5 separate regions of the Homo sapiens genome follow, and all the other regions are reported to be linked to region 2. Evidence: microRNA targets listed by miRTarBase, many of them from high-throughput screens and not tested one by one. Region 2 holds a microRNA gene; each other region holds the end of a gene's coding sequence.

Region 1 (3,000 bases), not on the chromosome of region 2:
AATAAACAAAAATGTGAGTCCCTCCCAGGGAAATTCCAGGCACCTAGCTAGCTCTACAACCATGAATTGGGGAAATGAATGAATAACCCGCTAAGCAAGAAAGTAATAATAGCTTAAACAATAGTCACTCAAGTAGTAGTCACAGAATGTTAGCTTCCTCATAGAAACTAAAGATAACATCTTTTTGTTTGTTTTGTTTTTTGGGTTGTTTGTTTGTTTTGAGACAAAGTCTTACTCTGTTGCCCAGGCTGGAATGCAGTGGCACGATCTCAGCTCATTGCAACCTCCGCCTCCCAGGTTCAAGCAATTCTCCTGCTTCAGCCTCCCTAGTAGCTGGGACTACAGGGGCCCGCCACCACACCCAGCTAATTTTGTATTTTTAGTAGAGATGGGGTTTCACCATGTTGGCCAGGCTGGTCTTGAACTCCTGACCTCAGGTGATCCACCCACCTCGGCCTCCCAAAGTGCCGGGATTACAGGCATGAGCCACCATGCCTGGCCTAAAGATAACATCTTGACATATATCCTTGAGTTGTTTTTCAGGAGCCAGGACCCCCACCAATGTCACCACGTGACAATGCCAGCACGTAGACCTCAGACAGACTGGAACCAGAAAATGGATAAGGAAGTTCCAGAAATTCCTCAGCCCCTAACTCCCTTTGAAACCTCCCCACCCCTGCCTTAAAAACCCTTGCTTAAAAGCCATCAGGGAGTTTGAGCCTTAGCTGCCCATTCTCCTCGCCTGGTGCTCTGCAATAAACGCCTTACTTTCTCTGGCTGCAAATCTCACTGTCGGTGTTAGGCTTTGCAAACACTGGGCAAGTGGACCCAGGCTGGGTTTGACAACAACCTCAAAGAAGGCTGAAACCCTGGTGTGTGGAGTGTGGAAGCTGAGTGCTGTCTTAGCTGCAGGGAACAGCCTCCCCTCCCAGAGGCTCCTTCATCTGTCCAACCTCTGAAGGACTACTGGAGGCACAGTCCAAGTATAACCAAAGTCCGTTTAACACCCAGCACCCCTCAAAAGAGCTCATAGTGCTTGCTGTAGTTTCATAAAGGCCCAGGTGGTGAGAAAGATTAGGTGTTGCTGGGCCCATCTAGGAGGGCAAGTGACCAAGAACATAAATCTTGGGACCAAGCTGAGAGCATTCCACCCACCACAGTTCTCTGGAGCTTCGGCCCACCACCCAGAGAATTAGCCCAACTGCCTGGGTATGCTCAGGGAAGAACTGAGGCAGGGGGCCAGAGCTCAGCAAGCTGGGCATGTGGCCTGTGGCCAGAGCCCCACCCACAGCCCCCCGTCCTTCTAGGGAGGAGAGCATGCTGCTCCTCCTGACATGTCGCAGCTCCCCCAGAAAAAGTAACACTCCCCAGCCACCAGTTCTAAAACCAAATCTTTATTCTCTAGTTTGAAAAGGAGGGGTAAATGGTTGTTCTGTTTAGTTCCAGAGAACAGAACAAGGCCCAATAGGTAGAAATTATAGGAAAGCAGAATTCATTCATTATAAGGAAGGATTTCTAACAATTAGAATTTCTAACAATTAGAATCATCCAGGGCCTCAGGAGGTGCGGAAGTTCCTGTCACCTAAGTGCTCAAGCAGAGGCCAGGTGTCCATATGCTAGAAATGGAGAAAAGGAAACTCACCAGCAACTTCCCCTCAGCTGGCCCTCCATCACCAATGCGGCAGTCCTTGCCGTGACATGCTGAGCTCTGGAAGGAGCGAAGGAGGGGCTGCGGTGTTCAGACAAGAGCCTGGACACAGTGCTGCTGACAGCCAGGGGAGGCTCTCAGCGCTGGGAGGGGCGACAGATAAAGCGAGACAGACCAAGGAGTAAATGCCTTGGGATCTGCTCTTTGGGAAGGAAGAGGATGGAAGTATTAACAGCAGACGGGTCTCTCCAAGTCTGGGTGCCTACGCAGGGGGCAGGTGGGAGGGGAAGGGAGAGGTAAGAGTGGCTTCGCTTCACCTCTTGCTGCTGGCAAAGGCCCAAGTGCTGTCTAACAAGGCCAGCAGGTTCTCCAAGCTGTATCTAGCCCAGAGCATTCATTTACAGGACTCTACCACGCCTGCTTCCAAAAATGATCTTAAGTAACTTACAGTAAAAGACAGGGGCATTAAGGCGTTAATACCAGAGGATGGAGGGTCTTCCTTTCCACTGGTGGCTCCTCTAGCCAGAGGGCTCTAAGGGGCGGATGCTATTGCTGCTTTTCCAGGGCACAGGGCAGTCAGGACGGAGCCTTAGCACACACCAGCTGGAGGCCGGCGTCCCTGCGCTTGGAAGTGGGTTCCCTGGCCACCGGGGTTGACCTCTCTCGCTAGCAGGGCCCACCCAGCTCACTCCCCGCGTCTTCCATCCCCTCTAGGATTCCCATTGTCCCCTACTCCAGCACTAGGCAGGCACCCCCAGCCCACTGCGACTCCCACCACGAAGGACCCCAGCCCTCTCTCAGCCAACACGGCCCCGCCCACCGTCTCAGACATCGTGCTTCTTCTGGTGGGCCAGGAGTCTCTCCTCGTCGTCGAAGGTCTGGCCACAGATGGCACAGCAGAAGGCGCCGTCCCGGATGTGGCTCTTGCGGTGGGTGATGAGGTTGGACTTCTGGCTGAAGCTGCGGTCGCAGTCGGGACAGGCGTAGGGCCGCTCGCCCGTGTGGATGCGCCGGTGCGACACCAGGTTGGACTTCTGGCTGAAGGCTTTGCCGCAGTCGGGGCAGACGTAGGGCTTCTCGCCGGTGTGGATGCGCCGGTGCGCCGCCAGGTAGGGTTTGTGGCGGAAGGCCTTGCCGCAGTCGGGACACACGAAGGGCCGATCGGGGGCGTGGTCGCGCCGATGCGCCGCCAGATGGCTGCCCTGGGAGAAGCGGCGGCCGCACTCCTCGCAGGCGAAGGGCCGCTCGCCGGAGTGCACGCGCGAGTGCGCCACCAGGTGCGTCTTCTTGCCGAAGTTCTTCCCGCACTCGGCGCAGGTGAAGGGCCGCTCCCCGGTGTGCTGCCGCTGGTG
Region 2 (3,000 bases):
CCCTCACCACTGCTCTCGCCCCACCGCCCCACCCCCCTGCCACCCTCACACTTGTCCCTGTGCCTGTCACTGACAGAGGGCCAAGTGCTGTCCCAGAGCCAGGCTGCTCCGTGTTTCTGACACCCATGCTAGTGTGGTCCGGTCCTTAATCACCTGAGGTTGGGGGGCTTCAGCCACATTGCAGATCACTTACGGCAAATTAAAATGAAATTCAAGGCTCCCTCCTTCCCCCTAGCCTGGCTTTCGGGCTGCCTCTCTCCCACTCAGGAGCATCCATAGAGCCTGAGCCAAAGAGAAATTTAAAGCCACAGCCGCCACTGCTACCATAAGAAAAATAAGTCAGAAAAGTGTACTTTTCCTTTCCCTTTGCTGCTTTTAAACATTATTTGCATCTTTGGGTTCTTTCCAGGACCCAACAGCAGCTACTCAGAGTCTTCTAAACCAGCAGCCTAGTGGGACCCCTGGCAGTGCAGGGGTTAACACGGTGACCTCCTTAAGCTGCTGAGGTGTCAGGTCTAATTTTATCCTATAACTGGATCTGCCAGTCCTCTTTTTTGCCCAAGTGCTGAGATATATTGGGAAGCCCAGAGTCAGCACTTTTGGTGGCTCAGGAGGCAGCGGGCCCTGATTTTTGCCGAATGCAGAAAGCTAGAGCCTCCTTGCTGCTCGGTCCCAGAGTCAGGCCCTGGGGTGTGAATGGTAACGGCCTGGTTAGTGCTGCACTGGGGCCACCATGCCCCCTCACCTCCTGCTGACTCCCACCCCGAGGTATCCTGTACTGAGCTGCCCCGAGCTGGGCAGCATGAAGGGCCTCGGGGCAGCTCAGTACAGGATGCCCCAGGGAGGATGGAGATCAGAGCCGGCCGCTGAAGCCCCCAGCACCACACACACCTGCTGGAGATGGTCGCACAGCGTCTTCATGTCCCTTCCTCATGGCACGGCACGGCACGGCATGCCCCTGCTCTGTGGCCACACTGCCCCATGCTCACACACATGCACCACAGCCCAGGCCCCGGCCCCAACCCTGACGGTCTCCTGACTTGCAGAAAGCACGTCGTCCACCCCTTAGGCCTGTCGGCTCAGCCCTTTCCTAGAAAGCAAGGGAGCAACGTGTTTCACAAAACACCAAAGAGAAGCTAAGCCTTGGCCTGGTGAGAACTGTAGCTGGGCTCCAGGTTCAAGAGACAGTCCAGTCCTCAGTCTTGGAGCTCTTATGTTGAAGCATCACAGCCCAGACCAACTCTCCTGTCCTCTTCAATGCCCTGTCCACTGCTTTCTAGATCCCCATTGCTTGGTTTCCAAGATAATATTACCACTTAGATTTACAGAGTGCTTTTACTTTTCAAAGAGCATTTTTTTCTTTCTGGCTTTTTTTTTTCTTTTTTTTGTGATGGGGTCTTGCTCTGTTGCCCAGGCTGGTCTTGAACTCCTGGCCTAAAGCAATCCTTTTGCCTCGACCTCACAAAATGCTGGGATTACAGACATGAGCCACTGTGCCCGGCCCAAAAGGCATTCTTACAAAACCGTGCGGTCCCTGATAAGTGGATATTATTAACTCTGTTTCCTTGATGAGGAAGCTGGGGTTCAGAGCCAACTGTTAGCAGGGTTGGGAAGTGAGAATCTCTGCCTCGAGACACAACAACAAGTTGTTTGTCCCACATCATGCTGGGGTGGCTGGGAGGGGATAGGGTGAGACAGGGAGCAGCCACTCCACTGAAGACCAGGCCATGCAGAGGGGATGAGAAGGGCAGCGTTACCTCCCGAGAGGCTACTCCAAGGAGAGCGGCTCGGGGTCACTGTTTCCCCCTTTTCAGGCTGGCCCGCTTCACTATCTGCGCCCCCTTCCTGCCCTCTATCAGGTCCGGCTGTAGGCCACTCCCTCTCAGCTCCACCTGCAGACAGCAGCAGAGACAGAAAGCAGGACAGATCGCAAAGACGGGCAGAACACAGGCAGAAGATCGAAAGGAGGCCACACGGAGGTGGCAGACACACTGCCCACCAGGGAGAAGAGAGACTGGAGAGAGAGCTCATAAAGAGGTGAGTGGAGGGAGGTGTCATGCAGACGGCCCGGCAGAGCAAGGCAGCAGTGATGGCGCTGGGTCCCCCAGGGCCGCGGGCGCCTCAGTACCTTGGAGTGTTTCATAAAGTAATCAATATCGACCTCCAGCTCACTGGGATCCTCCAGGGGCCCCTCTACAGTCACCTCCTCGTGCTCCTGGGCGGCATCGGCGCTGGACAAGTCTATCTGTCGAACCACCTTGCGAATGATCTAGGAAAGGAAGGGAAGGAGGAAAGGGCTGGTCAGGCCGGGCTCGGGGGCTCATGTCTGTAATCTCAGCACTTTGGGAGGCTGACGTGCAGATCATCTGAGGTCAGGAGTTTGAGACCAGCCTGGCCAACATGGTGAAACCCTGTCTCTACTAAAAATACAAAAATTAGCCCGGTGTGGTGGCAGGTGCCTGTAATCCCAGCTACTCAGGAGGCTGTGGCAGGAGAATCACTTGAACCTGGTGGATGGAGGTTGCAGTGAGCTGAGATTGCATCACTGCACTCCAGCCTGGTTGACAGAGCAACACTCTGTGTCAAAAAAAAAAAGGCGGGGGGGCTGGTCAAGCCCTCAAGACAGAGCTTCAGAACAGCAGTTCCCAGGAATGAGCTCCGAGGGGGAGGTAGCTTTTGTCCTAGGAGCCCCTCCTTGAGAGGCCAAGAAGAGGGACAGCCTTTGCCCCATTGCTTAATGGAAAACCCTCTGCTAGACAGCCCTGAAGGGGCCTTGGCAGTGTCATTTCATGACCAAGGTGTGACTGGGTGTGACCTCCCCCTCGAGCCCACAGCCTTCTGTTTTGCTTTTTGATATGGATGGGAGTTTGTGCTCTTCCCCATTCTACTCCCATGAGCCTAAGGGCAGAGGGCATCTCTTTTTCACCCACCCATTCCCGTATTCACCTGTCCAAATCTTCAAACCCTTTACTCTGTATCTGCCGTGTGCTCTGAGTGGGA
Region 3 (3,000 bases), not on the chromosome of region 2:
CTTGTCACCCCTATCTAATGGATAAGGAAAGTAAGGCTCAGAGGTATGAAGGACATGGACACAGGTTAGCAGCAGAGCCAGGATTGAAAGTCAAGTGTCCTCACCCCCAGCACAGGCTCCTCCTGCTGCCCAGGGTCTGCAAAGCTCCAGGCTGTCCCAGTGCCAGGACACTGTCATCCAGGGGCAAGCGAACGCAGTATCCTAGGCAGGTTCCCATAGCCCTGAATCTGGCTCTCTGGAAGCCTGTGCGCCTCCTCTCAGTCTTTCAAAATGGAAGGTAGTTAAAACCTCAGTCCTATTTTTCTTTTCTTTTTTTTTTTTCTTTAGAGACAGAGTCTTGCTCTGTTGCCCAGGCTGGAATGCAGTGGTACAATTACAGCTCATGGCAACTTCGACCTCCTGGGCTGAAGATCAAGTGATTCTCCCACCTCAGCCTCCTGAGTAATAGGACTACAGGTGTGTGCCTGTAGTTAATTTTTTATTTGTGCAGAGACAGGGTCTTGTTATGTTGCCCGGGCTAGTCTTGAAATCCTGGCCTTAAGCGATCCTCCCACCTCAGCCTCCTGAGTAACTAGGACTACAGGTGGGTGCCACCGCACCTCGCTAATTTTTTATTTCTGTGCAGAGACAGGGTCTTGCTATGTTGCCCAGGCTAGTCTTGAAATCCTGGCCTTAAGCGATCCTCCCACCTCAGCCTCCCAAAGTGTTGGGATTACAGGCATGAGCCACTATGCATAGGTGGCTATTTTTTGTACAAGAAAGCCAAGGCTCAGAGAAGGTAAATGTCCTGCTCAGGGTCATAGGGCAGAACTATGTCCTGGGAATGGACCTCTGATCCCTGGCCTGGTGCCCATCCAATTGAGTCAGCCAGAAACAGCATTCAGAACTCTTTTCCTGGTGCCAGCTTCTTACTGGGTCTCAGCTTCACAGTCTCTAAAATGGGTTCATTAGTAGAGGCCCTAAACAAGCCTAGGTTTGAGTTTTCTGAGGCAAAGAAATTGAGTGATGCTTCCAGTGGGAGGAGCCCCATACAGTGACCAAAGGGCCTGGCTTTCTGGACAACCAACTTCACTTTACCCAGAGGGAAACTGAAGCCAAGGAGGGAGCCAAATGGCCTTGGGGATCCAGTGATTTAAGGACGGTGAGATAAGGAGGGCCAGGCTTCCCTACCCCAGCCTGCAACATCCAGGAGAGAATCCTGCTGGTTGAGTCCTGGGGCCCACCCTGCTTCCAAACACTTCACAGAGAAAAAGCTTTTTACAAAGACATTTATTTTCCCCAAAATATACCCCCAGTTTACAAAATCCCTCCGAGTCCCACATTTAAATTAGAAGTCCTCACATCTTCCATTCCTGGGGCAGGGAGAGATGACATCCGGAAGGCATCAGAACGTCTGAAGTCTCACTCTACCAGAGGCCAGGAGCTGGCCAGAGGCAAGCCAGGAAAAGACTGCCCCAGCCCCAGAATAGCACCATGGTGGGGGTGGGGGGCAGTCCCCTCGGTGTCCCCAAAGCATTCCTGGCCCTGCCCTGCCCCAGGCTCTGCCTTTTCTGCTGCTATGAAAGGTCCAGAGGGCCTTGGTGCCTGCCCACCTGCCCACACCTGGACAGACATTTTGGACACCACCAGATTCTCTAGCCGTGGCGAGGGGCTATGTCCCTCTCTCCAGGTTTCCGCCCCAACCCCATGCTCTGGGTAAGAATTATGGGTGGGATGGGGGTGAGGTATCCAGGAAGCCTTGAGCCACAGAGGAGGTGTGGAGCAGGGAGCCAGGCAGGAGCCCCCTGCAAACCGCAGGGTGCAGTGTAGTTAGTTGTCTGTCTCCCAGCTGGATGGGGAGTCCTTGAGGGAGGAACTTTATCTTCCCACGCAGGGCCCCCAGCACCTAACACAGTGCTGACATCTGTAGTTGCTCAATAAACATCAACTGAATGGATACATGAAAAGAAAGGAACAAAGAGGTGAGAAGGCAGAGGGACAGAAGCTGACCCCCAGGGGCCCCATCACAGACCCCTGGAGAACCAGTGTGACCAGCACATGCTTCCGTGGGGAGGATGGGCAGGGGAGAGGGGCACTGCAGAGGAGGCTGGGCCAGGGGGGAACCACACGTGTTCCAGCACGTGCACCTGCAGGTCTCCATGCACAGCTGTGCATGTGGTGGGCGCAGAGTGCCCTGTCTTCACTTGGGGCAGGGAGGGAAAAGGCCAGTATTAAGGCTAGAGCAAGAGGAGGAAGGAGGGGAAAGGAAACAGCTTCTAGACTCCAGGAGATGTTGAGGCCGCACTGTCCCTGTCTGAGAAGAAAAGATTCTATGCAGGTGGAAGCAGGGCTGAACATGATCACTAGTGTATCACGGCCATTGGAGAAACAAGGCCGGGGTGACTATGCATCGTGTCTTTGGTGAAATAAGGCAGGGGGTCAGTCAGTCTGAATATTGCATCTTTTGGAGAAAAAAGGCAGCCAGATGGTCCACGCAGCACTGGAAGAAGAGGGTGGTGATGTGGTCAGTGTACTGTGTCCCTAAGAAATGTATGTACTGTGAAATAAGGCAGCAGGCAGGATGACTTAGAGAACTAAGGTTGTGGGTGGTCTGTTCATTGTGTCTATAAGAAAAAAGGCAGCAGGATGACTTGGGAATCATGTCCATTGGAGAAATAAGGCTGCACAGTGGTCTGTGTATCGCATCCTTTGGAGAAGGAGCCCACCTGTCAGAGCAGGATGCATCTGTTGGGGGCAGGGCTCACAGTGCAGCCCCATTGCAGCCAGAGGGTAGGAGCTGTAGGGAGGGGTAGCAGCTCCCTGGTCCTCATGGTCAGGCTATTTCTTGTCCATCATCTTCATTTCATGATGGGAAGAAAAAAAAGGGAAGGGAAAAGCATTAGATGCCAGAAGATCTATTTTTGGGATTATGCCAGAAGCCCAAGCACCTGGTCAGACTTCAAGTGGGGAGTGTGTGTGAGACAGCAGCCCAACGGACAGCCCCCGTGCTGACCACGGCCC
Region 4 (3,000 bases), not on the chromosome of region 2:
AAAAAAACAAAAAACCAAACACCCAAAAACTCACTGTATTCTTCACAAGGGAAACACTACCAAAAAAAGCAGCAAATATAAACACTATCTTCTAGTCCCTTTTGAATATGGATTTCATCTCCTAAGGGCAGTAAAAACATAGATCAGACAGCACTTCTCTAAAAGAGATGCTTATTCAATACCTTCAATAGTCATCCAAAGCAGGATGTAAAAAGGCTTAGGGGTATGTAGTGGGGTGGTGTGGAGGAAGGCAGGAAGCAGCAACAACAGGAAAAAAAAAATTAAATGACAGTCAAGGCATTCATTATACTCTATCTTAAAGGCGGGAGCAAAAAAGACCTCAATAATATACACCATTCTCTTTGAGGGACACACCCAATGTTGTCCCTCCATACTATTTTCCCATACTTTCCTTCTTTCTCTTCTTTGGTTTAATATTACAGGAATAGTAAACTAAATAAATGTTCATTTTGTATTTAAAAAAATTTATTTGTGATCTGTACATGTGATAAAGTGGGGTAGACCTTTAAAGCCAACAAAACAAAAATCCAAAGTAAAAATGTATAAATACAATATATATTTTCTTACAAAAATGGGAGATTTACAAAATATACATACTGTACTTATCTCTATTTTACAAATTTCACATGCACTTAAAAGATACAGCACAAAAGATGCCAAAACCTGTGTTGGAGTTTTAAAAATCTGACAGATGAGATAGTTTTGAAGGTTGAAGAAACACAAGATCGATTTTAACTTTAATGTAAAAAGCAGTTCCACTCAAGTGAACATTACATATATAAAGTAACTTGTACACTTTACAGTACCCTCTATGATTGGCATTTAAAAACTGTTCTGAGAAACAGGATAGTGTTGCAAGATTGGAGGGTAGTGTCAAAGGTGGGATAAAGGTTAGCTCCCATGATTCTCTGCTAAGCTTTACCCCATCATGCAAAAGAATCCGAGTTCTATTACAGAAAAAAAGTACATGATTTAAGATTAATAAATTTAAGTCTTCCAGCACATTTCAAAGAACTCCAGAATCACTTTGAAGTTTACCTTCTTTTAATGACTTTCTTTAAAGATGGGGCCCATGGTTCAAACCTTCCTCTTCGTTCACTATGGTATCTGCTGATCGCCTCCCAACCCAACCACACAGAGACAGGGTCAGCATATGGATGATGTTTAATAAACAGATTGATGGAACCAAGAAAACAGGACAAAATGGCTCTTTGCTTTTTTTTTTTAATTAACTTTCCTTTATTATGAGGCTGAAGACATTATGTTTTTTTACCTCAAAGGATCCAAATGGGAGAAAAAAATAGAAAAGAAACCTAAATATAGGCTTATAGCAAGAAAAAGTAAATGAAGGGAGAGATTTCCCTGAATATTTTAACATAGTCTGTTGGATCATGTGTTCCGAATTAAATTTATTTAAAACAGACAACAAAACCTCTTACATTTCCTTTAGCGAAGTCAGAACCTCTGGCTTAACGGTGTGTGACAGCACACTGCTCTTCACTTTTCCTTAAAAAGGAATGTTTATCTCAACCAAATTAACAACCAACGGGAAACCTCAGATTTGCGCTGCTTTGCCTATAAAAGTTGCTTTCGTCACAGTTATGCCTTTCCACAGGGAGACACTTTTGTTTCCTCTTTTGTCTCTTACAACAAAGACAAGGGGAAAAATGCATTCCTGTTTTGAAAAGCAACAAGTCATCACTTCTTTTCAGGGTATTAGACCAAATAAAACACCCGTCTTTCTGCCTCCTGCCTTCCCCAGAAAATGAAAAAGTAGCAAAAATACCTACTCCACGTCTCCTTGGCCTTATCTCAAAATGTTATCATCATTTCTTTTGCATCCTCACATTAGGATTCTAGCAGGCAGGCCTCCCAAGACTTCCAAATGCTTATTTTACAAGACCTGAAAGCAGTACGGGAGGAAAAACAGGCGGGAGGGGGCAGGGGAGGAGAGACCGTAATGTCTGACCCTGGAAATTAACCCATCTGGGCTCCAGTTTGGCCCCAGTGAAAAGAGATTATGGTTTGACCACTGCTTGACAAGCACACCGCAGGAGGCCCTCCCTCTTTCCAACAAAGCAGCCACCGCAGACAGGGCTGTACCTTTCCCGGGGCCTCACAGGGGTCTGGACAGGCCACTCGCCCTGCAGCAGGGGGATCGCTCACAGTCCCCGTTCAGCCTCGGAGCCGGGAGAAACTCACAGCAGTCTCTGCTGGTCTCAACCTTCTATTAGGCACAAGCTGGCCCGTACCTTTGACGATTCACATCGCCGTTATCATCATCTTCCTGCAAGTCTTTGCCTGAAATCTTTTCATCCAAACCGCTTTCCACCCAGGTCTTCTTTTCCAAATCACCCCTCGCCCCAAATCTGCAAAGAACTTCTCACTTCCAGGTCACTTCTCAGTAGAGGGGGAGAAAGTTACAGAAACAGGCCCCCACCCAGCAGTTCTTTTCCCTACCGTGCCTCTCCTCTTGCAAGAGGGCTGGGGTGGGAAAGGTGGGGAGGGGCCGGGGCTCATACCGCAGTCTCCCCCTTGCTGCTGTGGCTAAGTCTGTGGTAGAAGCGGCGCCACGACTGCAGGGTCTTGCCCGACCAGATCCAGAAGCCAGTGGTGATGCCGACGATCATGGTCATCAGGTACTTGATCATGAAGACGGTGAAGTCGGGGCTCATGGGCGGGAAGTGGCCGGGCGGGCAGGGCACGGCATAGCTCTTGCACGTCTGCAGGAGCCAGGTGCGCTCCCAGTGCTCGCGGAAGGCCTGCTCGTAGAAGTAGCAGGCCAGGACGATGGTGGCGGGCACTGTGTAGAGCACGCTGAAGACGCCGATGCGCACCATGAGCTTCTCCAGCTTCTCGGTCTTGGTGCCGTCGTGTTTCATGATGGTGCGGATACGGAAGAGGGACACGAAGCCGGCCAGCAAGAAGGACGTGCCTATGAAGAGGTAGACGAACAGAGGCGCCAGCACGAAGCCCCGC
Region 5 (3,000 bases), not on the chromosome of region 2:
CAAAGGCCGCGGGGCCCCGGTCGCGGCGCGCCCCGGCCCCCAAGCCGTACGTGTGTCTGGAGTGCGGGAAGGGCTTCGGGCACGGGGCCGGGCTCCTGGCGCACCAGCGGGCCCAGCACGGGGACGGGCTCGGGGCGGCGGGGGGCGAGGAGCCGGCCCACATCTGCGTGGAGTGCGGGGAGGGCTTCGTGCAGGGCGCCGCGCTCCGGAGACACAAGAAGATCCACGCGGTGGGCGCGCCCTCGGTCTGCAGCAGCTGCGGACAGAGCTACTACCGCGCGGGCGGGGAGGAGGAGGACGACGACGACGAGGCCGCGGGCGGGCGGTGCCCCGAGTGCCGCGGTGGGGAGGGCCGGTAGGGGAGGGGCCCGGGGGGGGGGGCGGGCAGGGCCCCTCGGGCTTGGCGGGAGCGACGACGTGCAAGACCAAGAGACCCAGGGAGAAGCGGACGGGGTGCGATGGACCCCGCGGCATCCCCGGCTCCCCGCCCTCCTCTGTCCCTGCGCCGTCCGTGGGGGGGCACTGGGGCGTATTAGGGCCCGTTCACTTCTCCGCCTCGAGACTCTGCCCCCTCAGCCTGGCCCGCCCTTCCTAAGTTATCGGCCTGCGAGCCGGAGAGACAATGGAGAGAACTGCAGAGGCCGAGTGGCGACCAGGCCCCAAGCGGAAGGCCATTTTCCCTGCTCTTCCTCAGTTGTCCGGGGCGGGGGTGGGGGGTGCTGCGAGGAATGGAGAAACCAGGCCCTTTAGAGGATCCCAGAGAGGGAAGAGAACCAGGGGCCCTTTTCTCTTTTAGAATTTTCTTTTAATCAGCCCACCTTTTGACTCCCCGCCCGCCCCAATCCATTATTTTTTTCTGCCTTCCGGGTCCCATCCTTAGAGCTCGAGTCGTTCCTTCCCCTCCTGGATTCCGGGTAGCAGAGGCAGCGCCGCAGGAGGCGGGTGCCCGTTTGTCCCAGGCCTGGGCGTGGTGGAGGAAGGGGTGCTGGAACAATAAACGGCACTATCCAAATGTCCCCCTCTGCGTGGTTCTTGAGTCCGGGAGGGAGAAGGGCAAGAGGGGTAAACGGAGGCTCTCGCCGGGGCATCAGCAGAGCGTCAGCCGCGCCCCGGGAGTGGCCCGTTGGGTCGCCCGCGGAGGGCTCTAGGCAGGGGGGCCTGTCCGCGGATATCCTCACTATGGTGCGGGCACTCACAGGGCCTGGGAGCTGCTTGTAGATGGGGCAGGGCGGACTGGTCAGGGCCAGGCCTGCCCGCTGCAGGGGAAGGAGCCCCCACGGCTTCTACCACCCTCTCACAGGGGCGGCTGGCTTCCTCCACTCCTATCGTGTGGCCCCCGCCCCTAACCCCAAAAGCACCCTCCTCCTGCCTCCAGCTTCTGGGGGAGACTCTGACTGCAAAGGGCGCACGTCCCCCTACCTGGGTCGTTCACGGGGCTGGTCCCGTGGTTGCGGCTCCCTGCGAAGGAGGCTGGGAGATGAGGTCCCGGCGGCTGCCGCTCCGGGGACAGGACCCCCCGCCCCCTACGGGAGGAGGATGGTGCGCTCAGCTGTCTCTGCTGCAGGGGCCAGGCAGACGAGCCAGCCAGGGGCTGGGGGAGAGGGCGGGTATGCCACAGTCCAGCCGAGCGCTTAGGGCATTTCAGGCAGTGCGCGTGCCCGAGGGGCTTGGTCCGGTAGAGCCGCTGCAGCCGCCCTGCCAGGTGAGCGCTGTTGTTCATGATCAGAAGGGGGCTCGACCATGGCGACTGGTTTCCTGGACCCACAGCCCAGGTCCTGAGGACCCATGTTCCTGGGGCCTTGGGAGGCCGCAGTGAGGGTCCCAAAGGGGTATTTTCAACCTGGCTGAAGGCTGCGATTACTCAGGAGCGATTGGAGGCGGCAAGCTGCAGGCGTCTTTGACTTGGGGGTTTCATAGTAGAGGGGGACTTGAAGGAGAAATTCGGATTTCCAGTTAGAGCCCTTAATCTGCCCTTTCACACCCTGATGTGCTTGAGGAGGGTCCTGGGGCCTCATCTGGAGGCAGGGGGTTTAGAAACCAGGGCCACTGATGGTCTACAGATCCTGGAGGATTTGTTAGAGGACTAGGGAGTGATTGTGGATCAAAAAAGCGTGTTCTCAAGTGGCCAGAGCCTTGCTTAGATAATTGGTATTGCATGTCAGTTTTTGAAATTTCAGGTCACTCGAAAGGAGGGGGTGAACCTTGGCAGTTCAGAGTGGGCTGGGTTAGCAAAGACTGAGGAAGCATTGCTCACTTCTCCTAGGGTCCTTCTGTGGAGCTCTGGCCTTGGGCACTTCTGGAGGCCTGGGAGGATGGGAGGTGCCCTGTCTGGTAGAATTGGCAGCTCGGTGCCCCATAAGTCGGGCACACTGAGTCTCGGGTCAGCCTCTTCTACCTGCTCCAGTATATGGTGGCAGGAGCTGACACCTATAGCAAGAAAGATTCAGGGCAAGTTTCCACCCTGCCCCTTAAGGCTGTGTGACCCTGGGCAAGTGGACTAACCTCTCTGACCCTTGGCTTCCTGCCCTGTGGAAAGGAGAGCTTGCCTGCCTGCCTTGTATGACTGTGTGTGGAGGGGGGAATCCCCAAGCCATGTGTTAACTCACTGGAGCTGCCCTCCCAGGCATGAGCAAAGATGCAGGGGCGAGGAGCCAGGCTCAAATCCCAGCTCTGCACTACTCATCCCACTTTGTAATACAGAACTGAGCGAGCTCACATGACCACCTTGACATCAGCCTGCACCGGACCCAACACCTGACCTGTGCTTTGGTGTCACACGCTGTCCGTTACTGATTCATGCACTCAGGTAGTCATTGCCCACCCCTCACTCACTCATTCTACAAATGTGTTTTGGGCAGCAGCTCCGTGCCCAGTAGGCACGGCGTGGGTCCCAGGTAAAGAAAGGAACATGGGTTCTTGTGGCACTTGCCGTCGGCCCTGTAGTTCACCTGCATTGGAGCTGCTCACCCACGGCAAGGTGAGGCTAGGCGGCCGCTCCAT

What was found. Region 2 holds the annotated microRNA hsa-miR-486-3p (CGGGGCAGCUCAGUACAGGAU, at 771-791, opposite strand). A microRNA usually pairs through its seed, bases 2 to 8, with sites in the 3' UTR of a target mRNA and lowers its output. Matches are read on the target gene's strand: a 7mer-m8 pairs with bases 2 to 8, a 7mer-A1 pairs with bases 2 to 7 and ends in A, and an 8mer does both.
Region 1: miRTarBase lists REPIN1 as a target of hsa-miR-486-3p. Seed matches in the 3' UTR shown: 7mer-m8 at 1,919-1,925.
Region 3: the mRNA of CD276 is a reported target of hsa-miR-486-3p. Seed matches in the 3' UTR shown: 7mer-m8 at 2,731-2,737, 8mer at 2,185-2,192, 7mer-m8 at 1,487-1,493 and 8mer at 1,354-1,361.
Region 4: miRTarBase lists FZD7 as a target of hsa-miR-486-3p. Seed matches in the 3' UTR shown: 7mer-m8 at 1,959-1,965.
Region 5: miRTarBase lists ZNF787 as a target of hsa-miR-486-3p. Seed matches in the 3' UTR shown: 7mer-m8 at 565-571.

Annotation. Positions count from the first base shown.
Region 1 is chr7:150,372,418-150,375,417 of GRCh38, reverse strand. It overlaps REPIN1 (replication initiator 1), which reads right to left. Exons shown (of 3, transcript NM_001099695.2): 3 at 1,379-3,000. The coding sequence ends at 2,473. It overlaps REPIN1-AS1 (REPIN1 antisense RNA 1), which reads left to right and starts at 2,475. Exons shown (of 4, transcript NR_183429.1): 1 at 2,475-2,577. RefSeq lists enhancers at 1,751-1,900, 1,961-2,080.
Region 2 is chr8:41,659,673-41,662,672 of GRCh38, forward strand. MIR486-1 (microRNA 486-1) reads right to left here and starts at 836; the gene lies at 769-836. ANK1 (ankyrin 1) reads right to left here. Exons shown (of 43, transcript NM_000037.4): 41 at 2,204-2,269; 42 at 1,758-1,892. The coding sequence ends at 1,794. It overlaps MIR486-2 (microRNA 486-2), which reads left to right and starts at 772; the gene lies at 772-835.
Region 3 is chr15:73,712,769-73,715,768 of GRCh38, reverse strand. It overlaps CD276 (CD276 molecule), which reads right to left. Exons shown (of 10, transcript NM_001024736.2): 10 at 1,255-2,835. The coding sequence ends at 2,813. Among named protein-coding and RNA genes, the nearest start is that of CD276, 30 kb to the right of the region's middle.
Region 4 is chr2:202,035,910-202,038,909 of GRCh38, reverse strand. FZD7 (frizzled class receptor 7) reads right to left here. Exons shown (of 1, transcript NM_003507.2): 1 at 469-3,000. The coding sequence ends at 2,538. Among named protein-coding and RNA genes, the nearest start is that of FZD7, 3.6 kb to the right of the region's middle. RefSeq lists an enhancer at 1-305.
Region 5 is chr19:56,085,382-56,088,381 of GRCh38, reverse strand. ZNF787 (zinc finger protein 787) reads left to right here. Exons shown (of 3, transcript NM_001002836.4): 3 at 1-1,016. The coding sequence ends at 359. Among named protein-coding and RNA genes, the nearest start is that of LINC01864, 20 kb to the right of the region's middle. RefSeq lists enhancers at 1,435-2,034, 2,370-2,869, 2,870-3,000.